Linked DNA regions of Homo sapiens. The protein of the gene in region 1 interacts with the protein of each later gene in a pairwise test. Each region holds a gene or a part of one and is shown in the gene's direction. Other genes may lie near its edges.

Evidence for each region.
Region 2: the proteins of ZNF44 (region 1) and UPF2 interact in a two-hybrid assay, tested with the Homo sapiens proteins (one large-scale study listed by BioGRID).

What each region holds. Positions count from the first base shown.
Region 1 is NC_000019.10:12,271,105-12,274,717, reverse strand, and holds the end of ZNF44 (zinc finger protein 44), read left to right. Parts: intron 1-652; exon of another isoform or gene 653-654; coding exon 655-2,311; 3' UTR 2,312-2,910; downstream 2,911-3,613. UniProt on the Homo sapiens protein: May be involved in transcriptional regulation.
Region 2 is NC_000010.11:12,035,985-12,039,809, reverse strand, and holds part of UPF2 (regulator of nonsense transcripts 2), read left to right. Parts: intron 1-3,825. UniProt on the Homo sapiens protein: Involved in nonsense-mediated decay (NMD) of mRNAs containing premature stop codons by associating with the nuclear exon junction complex (EJC).

The sequences.
Region 1 (3,613 bases):
CATGCCCGCAATCCCAGCACTTTGGGAGGCTGAGACAGGAGGATCACTTGAGCCTGGGAGTTTGAGGCTGCAGTGATCTGTGATGGCACTGGTGCACTCTAACCTAAGTGACAGAGCAAGACCCTGTCTTAAAAAAAAAAAAAAGGCCAGGCGCAGTGGCTTATGCCTGTAATCCCAGCACTTTGGGAGGCCGAGGTGGGTGGATCCACGAGGTCAGGAGATCGAGACCAACCTGGCCAACATGGTGAAACCCCATCTCTACTAAAAATACACAAAAATTAGCTGGGTGTGGTGGTGCATGCCTGTAGTCCCAGCTACTTGGGAGGCTGAGGCAGGAGAATCACTTGAACCTGGGAGGCGGAGGTTGCAGCAAGCCGAGACAGCACCAGCTGCACTCCAGCCTGATGACAGAGGGAGACTCCATCTCAAAAAAAAAAAAAAAAAAAAAAAAGAATTAAGAATCCCCATGTGCATATCATTGTCTTGAAAATAGCTGGGATTGAGTTATCTTGCACAACATTCAGTCCATTCACATTGAAGCAGGACATGAAGCTTATAGCTTGCCTGATAATGTTAAAAATGTAAATCTAATACCTGTTGATAAATATAAATTCAATAATAAACCTTTAGTAATGTACTTTTCATTTTTTACAGGTGTGATGTGGTAGAGAGATTTGGTAAAAGTAAAGATGGTAGTCAGTGTGGAGAAACCTTAAGCCAGATTCGAAATAGTATTGTAAACAAGAACACTCCCGCCAGAGTAGATGCATGTGGAAGCAGTGTGAATGGAGAAGTCATAATGGGTCATTCATCCCTGAATTGCTACATCAGAGTTGATACTGGACACAAACACCGGGAGTGTCATGAATATGCAGAGAAGTCATATACACATAAGCAGTGTGGGAAAGGCTTAAGTTATCGCCACTCCTTTCAAACATGTGAAAGGCCTCACACTGGAAAGAAACCCTATGATTGTAAGGAATGTGGAAAAACCTTCAGTTCTCCTGGAAACCTTCGAAGACATATGGTAGTAAAAGGTGGAGATGGACCTTATAAATGTGAATTGTGTGGGAAAGCCTTTTTTTGGCCCAGTTTATTACGTATGCATGAAAGAACTCACACTGGAGAGAAACCATATGAATGTAAGCAGTGTTCTAAAGCCTTCCCTGTTTACAGTTCCTATCTAAGACATGAAAAAATACACACTGGGGAGAAACCGTATGAATGTAAGCAGTGTTCTAAAGCCTTCCCTGATTACAGTTCATATCTAAGACATGAAAGAACTCACACTGGAGAGAAACCCTACAAATGTAAACAATGTGGGAAAGCCTTCAGTGTTTCCGGTTCCCTTCGAGTACATGAAAGAATTCACACTGGAGAGAAACCCTATACATGTAAACAGTGTGGGAAAGCGTTTTGTCATCTTGGAAGCTTTCAAAGACACATGATAATGCACAGTGGAGATGGACCTCATAAATGTAAGATATGTGGGAAAGGCTTTGATTTTCCTGGTTCAGCACGAATTCATGAAGGAACTCACACTCTAGAGAAACCCTATGAATGTAAGCAATGTGGGAAATTGTTATCTCATCGCTCAAGCTTTCGAAGACACATGATGGCACACACTGGAGATGGCCCTCATAAATGCACAGTATGTGGGAAAGCCTTTGATTCTCCTAGTGTATTTCAAAGACATGAAAGGACTCACACTGGAGAGAAACCCTATGAATGCAAGCAATGTGGGAAAGCCTTCCGTACTTCCAGTTCCCTTCGAAAACATGAAACAACACACACTGGAGAGCAACCCTATAAATGTAAATGTGGAAAAGCTTTTAGTGATTTATTTTCCTTTCAAAGTCATGAAACAACACACAGTGAAGAGGAGCCTTATGAATGTAAGGAGTGTGGGAAAGCATTTAGTTCTTTTAAATACTTTTGTCGCCATGAAAGGACTCACAGTGAAGAAAAATCTTATGAGTGTCAAATTTGTGGCAAAGCCTTCAGTCGTTTCAGTTACTTAAAAACTCATGAAAGGACTCACACGGCAGAGAAGCCATATGAATGTAAGCAATGCAGGAAAGCATTCTTTTGGCCCTCTTTCCTTCTAAGACATGAAAGGACTCACACTGGAGAAAGACCCTATGAATGTAAACACTGTGGTAAAGCCTTCAGTCGTTCCAGTTTCTGTCGAGAACATGAAAGAACTCACACTGGAGAGAAGCCCTATGAATGTAAGGAATGTGGGAAAGCCTTCAGTTCTCTCAGTTCCTTTAATAGACATAAAAGGACACACTGGAAGGATATTCTATAAGTGTATGGAATGTGGGAAAGCATTCATTGGTTTTATCACATTCAGATACTTGAAAGAAATAAATCCTGTGAATGTAAACGTGGTAAAGCCTTAAGAAGTTTCCAGGCTGGGCGCAGCGGCTCACACCTGTAATCCCAGCACTTTGAGAGGCCGAGGAGGGCAGATCACGAGGCCAGGAGATCGAGACCAGCCTGGCTAACATGGGAAACCCTGTCTCTACTAAAAATACGGAAAAAAAAAAAAATAGCCAGGCATAGTTGCTCACACCTGTAGTCCTAGCTACTCAGGAGGCTGAGGCAGGAGAATCCCTTGAACCCGGGAGGTGGAGGTTGCAGTGAGCCGAGATTGCACTACTGCACTCCAGCTTGGGTGCTAGAGCGAGACTCCATCTCAAAAAAAAAAAAAAAAGTTTCCATTTCTTTCAAATAGAGTTGCTGCCTGCTATATGCAAGAAGATTGGTTCCAGTACACCCTGAGTATACCTAAATCCACAGATGCCAGCTCTTTTATAAAATGGAATATTCGCATGTACCTACCCACATTCTCCTGTATACTCTATAAATGTCTAGATTAATTAAAATATCTCATGCATTGTAAAAGCTGTGTACATAGTTGTATTGTTTAGGGAATCATAAGAAAAAAAATCTATATGTGTTCAGTACAGACCCAACCATTGCAGGCCTATCTACATCGTATATATCACCTATAATGTTACAGTTTCTTGTTTCAATACTCAGATTACTTTTGTCTAATGACCTGAAAGAATGTGTTAACACCAACCACAATTCTGGTTCTTCTCTCTTGATAACCCAAGTATTACGATGGTTATGACAATGATGATTGCTGTATGGTGCCTAATGTGATGTGTAGAGGTGACTAGATGTGTGGCATCATAGATAAACAGTGAGACCTCAGGCTAACTTGAATCTTGACAGGACATCAAGACCTTCATCTATGTTGGAAGACCCAGGTTCTGATTGAAGATGTTGACTCTTTGCAGGAGGCTAATACTAATGTCAGCATCTGTTCAGCTTGAGGGCTGAAGATGTTTGTGTTGAAGGGTATGTCTTCATATTTGCAGATATTTAGTTAGAAGCATTGTTTTAGGAAGCTAGTTCTTTTTCTTTGAATCCCTAAAAAAACCTTAGTGTTCATTAGCATATTTTCCCTTATATGACACAGAAGCTTTTTTCAATCAAAGGATGTTAGCTGAGGTTGATTATCTTTAACACTTGCAACTTGCAGAGGCTATAGATGCCCCAAGATCTGCTGCAAATTTTTCGCGTGTCCAAATCAATGGCA
Region 2 (3,825 bases), on another chromosome or scaffold:
CATCTCTACTAAAAATACAAAATTAGCCGGGCATGGTGGCACATGCCTGTAATCCCAGCTACTCGGGAGGCTGAGGCAGGAGAATGACTTGAACCCGGGTGGCAGAGGTTGTGGTGAGCCGAGATCGTGCCACTGCACTCCAGCCTGGCGACAGAGTGAGACTCCATCTCAAAAAAAAAAAAAAAAAGAGAGAGAGAGAGACATAATTGTAAGTTCTGATGCCATTCTTTGTAGTGTCCTGTGGTCCTGAAATGTTACTTGTTGATGCGTCACATCAGAAAATGTGAAATCTATATAAACTTTTTTCACTTAATGATTAATATCCTTCAATAAGATCATGTTATTACCTTAGATATTAAATTGTCCCCATATGTTTCAGCCAGAGTCTGCTAAAAGTTAAAAACATTACATGAGAACTCCTTAACCATTATGAAGGATTCTTTCTACTCTTGAGATTCATAATTCTGTGGGTTGCTATAGTCAGTATTTACCAGCATGTCTCCCATCTCACAATTTGGTACTCTTAGGATTCTTTGGTTCAGAGAATGGGTTCAGATTCCCATTCTGTCACCAGCTGTGCAGGCCTTGGTCAAGTTACTTGGTCAAGTCTCAGTTTACTCATTTATAAAATAGGGAAAATAATACCCACCTCATAAAGATTTTAGTATTAAATGAGATAATATACGTAAAATGTTTAGTATGGTACCATGAGTAGTGTATTAGTATTATAGTCTTTTTGAAAGTTTGCTTGCTTTAAGGGCGTGATGTTTTCACATTAAAGTTGGATATTTAATTGAAAATGTATAAGAATCAATAACTACACTTCTAGATAATAGAAATGCTGCCCGGGTATAGTGGCTTATACCTGTAATCCTAGCACTTTGGAAGGCCGAGGCGGGAGGATGGATCCCTTGAGCCCGGGAGTGTGAGACCAGCCAGGGCAACGTACTGAGACCTTGTCTCTATTTTATTAAAACAGTTTTTTTTTAAATTAAAAAAATAGATAATATAAATGCTAATGTTGTCTTGGCATAGAAATGCTTTTTCTTTTGTTGTTGTTGTTGTTTTTTTTTGTATTTTTGAGACGGAGTCTCCGTCTTTTGCCCAGACTGGAGTGCAGTGGCGCTATCTCGGCTTACTGCAGCCTCCGCCTCCCGGGTTCAAGCGATTCTCTTGCTTCAGCCTCCCGAGTAGCTGGGATTACAGGCACCCTCCACCATGCCTGTTTAATTTTTGTATATTTAGTAGAGACGGGGCTTCCACATGTTGGCCAGGCTGGTCTTGAACTCATGACCTCAAGTGATCTGCCTGCCTTGGCTTCCCAAAGTGCTGGGATTACAGGAGTGAGCCATGGTGCCCAGCCTGCTTTTTCATATATTAAAGGTAATTTGTGTGTGTGTGTGTGTGTGTGTGTGTGTGTGTGTGTGTGTGAGATGGAGTCTCACTCTGTCGCCCATGCTGGAGTGCAGTGGCATGATCTTGGCTCACTGCAACCTCTGCTTTCTGGGTTCAAGCAGTTCTGCCTCAGCCTCCCCAGTAGCTGGGATTACAGGCGCCTGCTACCACGCCCAGCTAATTTTTGTATTTTCAGTAGAGATGGGGTTTCACCATGTTGGCCAGGCTGGACTCAAACTCCTGACTTCAGGTGATCCGCCCACCTTGGCCTCCCAAATTGCTGGGATTACAGGCATGAGCCACCGCACCCAGCCCCTAATGACGATTTTAAAAATAGGCCCAATAGCTTTTTTGTTGTTGTTGTGAGTTTTACCAGTGGGGTTAACTACAGCTATTAGGTGTCACTGTCAAAATAAATGCATAGAACAAGGGAGTGGAGAGCAATGAGGGAGTAAAAGAAAAAGGAGAAGGAAAAAGGTAGTTATGAGAAGGTACAGGCTGTGGCATGTACCTGCAAAAATTAAAGTGTTTCTGTTGGTCTAGGTTGCTTTCTGTGAAATTAACATTTTAATAGAGTACTGAAGTAAAGTATTTTTGTATTTAAAAAATATCAATATTACAAATGCTTTTTTTGGTAACCTAGTTTTAAGTGCTGTAATTTAAAACCTATATTTGAAAATATTTAAGGATACTATTGCTTTTAATAAAAAAAAACGAAGGGCTGGCCGGGCACTGTGGCTCATGCTTGTAATCCTGCACTTTGGGAGGCCAAGTCAGATGGATCACTTGAGGTCAAGAATTCAAGCAGCCTGGCCAATATGGTGAAACCCATCTTTACTAAAAATACAAAAATTAGCTGAGTGTGATGGCACACACTTATAATCTCAGGTACTTGGGAGGCTGAGGTGGGAGGTTCACTTAAACCCGGAAGGTGGAGGTTGCAGTGAGCCGAGATCACACCACTGCACTCCAGCCTAGGCAACAGAGCGAGACTCAAAAAAAAAAAAAAAAAGAAAAACAAAAACACTAAAGCTCAAAAACACAGTGGCTCATACCTGTAATCCCAGCACTTTGGGAGGCCCAGGTGGATGGATCACTTAAACTCAGGATTTCGAGACCAGCCTAGTCAACATGGGGAAATCCCATCTCTACTAAAAATACAATTACCTGGATGTGGTGTTGAGCACCTACTGTTCCAGCTACTTGGGGGGCTGAGGCAGGTGGGTCACTTGAGCCTGCGAGGTCGAGACTTCAGTGAGCTGTGATTGTGCCACTGCACTCCAGCCTGGGCGACAAAGTGAGACCCTGTTTCAAAAAGAAAACATAAAACTAAGAAATTTAGGTAATTTTCTACCTCTAAAATAGAATTTTGATTTTCTTTTTTTTCTTGAGGCGGAGTTTTGTCCTTGTTGCCCAGGCTGGAGTCCAATGGCGTGATCTTGGCTCATTACAACCTCCGCTTCCCGGGTTCAAGCCATTCTCCTGCCTCAGCCTCCCGAGTAGCTGGGATTACAGGCATGCGCCACCATACCCGTCTAATTTTATATTTTTAGTAGAGACGAGATTTCTCCATGTTAGTCAGGTTGGTCTCGAACTCTCGACTTCAGGTAATCTGCCTGCCTTGGCCTTCCAAAGTGCTGAGATTATAGGCATGAGCCACTGTGCTTGGCCGAATTTTGATTTTCTTATATACAACTCTTAGATAATTTAGGAGTTAAAACGTGAAACACCATGCCTAAAAGAAATTAGACAACTAGTTCTGAGTAGAGAAATATATTTTTAGAAAAGAAAAATTCAGAATTTTCCTGCAAAGTATAGTTTTTTGTTCCACAGTTACTTTCAGTTAACTATAAGCCTGTACTATAGGCCAATGCTATCCAATAGAACTTTCTGTGGAAATGTTCTGTATCTGCCCTGCTGTGTATGGAAGCCATTAGTCACATGTGGAATTGAGCACTTGAAATACAGATACTGACTGAAGAACTGAATTTCAAATTTTATTTAATTTTAATTAATTTACATTTAAGTAACCACATATGACTAGTGCAGCAGTTTTTGGGTGATAATTTTTTCTCCGACGGATATTTAGCAATGTCTGGAGTTATATTTGGTTGTCAAAATGAGGGAGGAGCTACTTGTATGCACTGCATAGCAGGCAGGGACACTGCTAAACCTCCTACAGAGCACATGGTGACCCCTTTCCTCTAAAACCAAAGGAGTATTTTGCCCAAACTGTCAATGGTGCTGAACTTTAGAAACCCTGGGCTAATAGCTACTCTGTATTGACAGATATAGCACAGAACATACGGATTTTAGGTTCATGTTTATTTATAAATTAACTTTAACTAATACAGATGAAGAAGTTAAAAGTCTAGTTTAATTTGAGATAGTTAACAGTTTTTGTATCTGAAAGTTTGATGATAAGGTTAG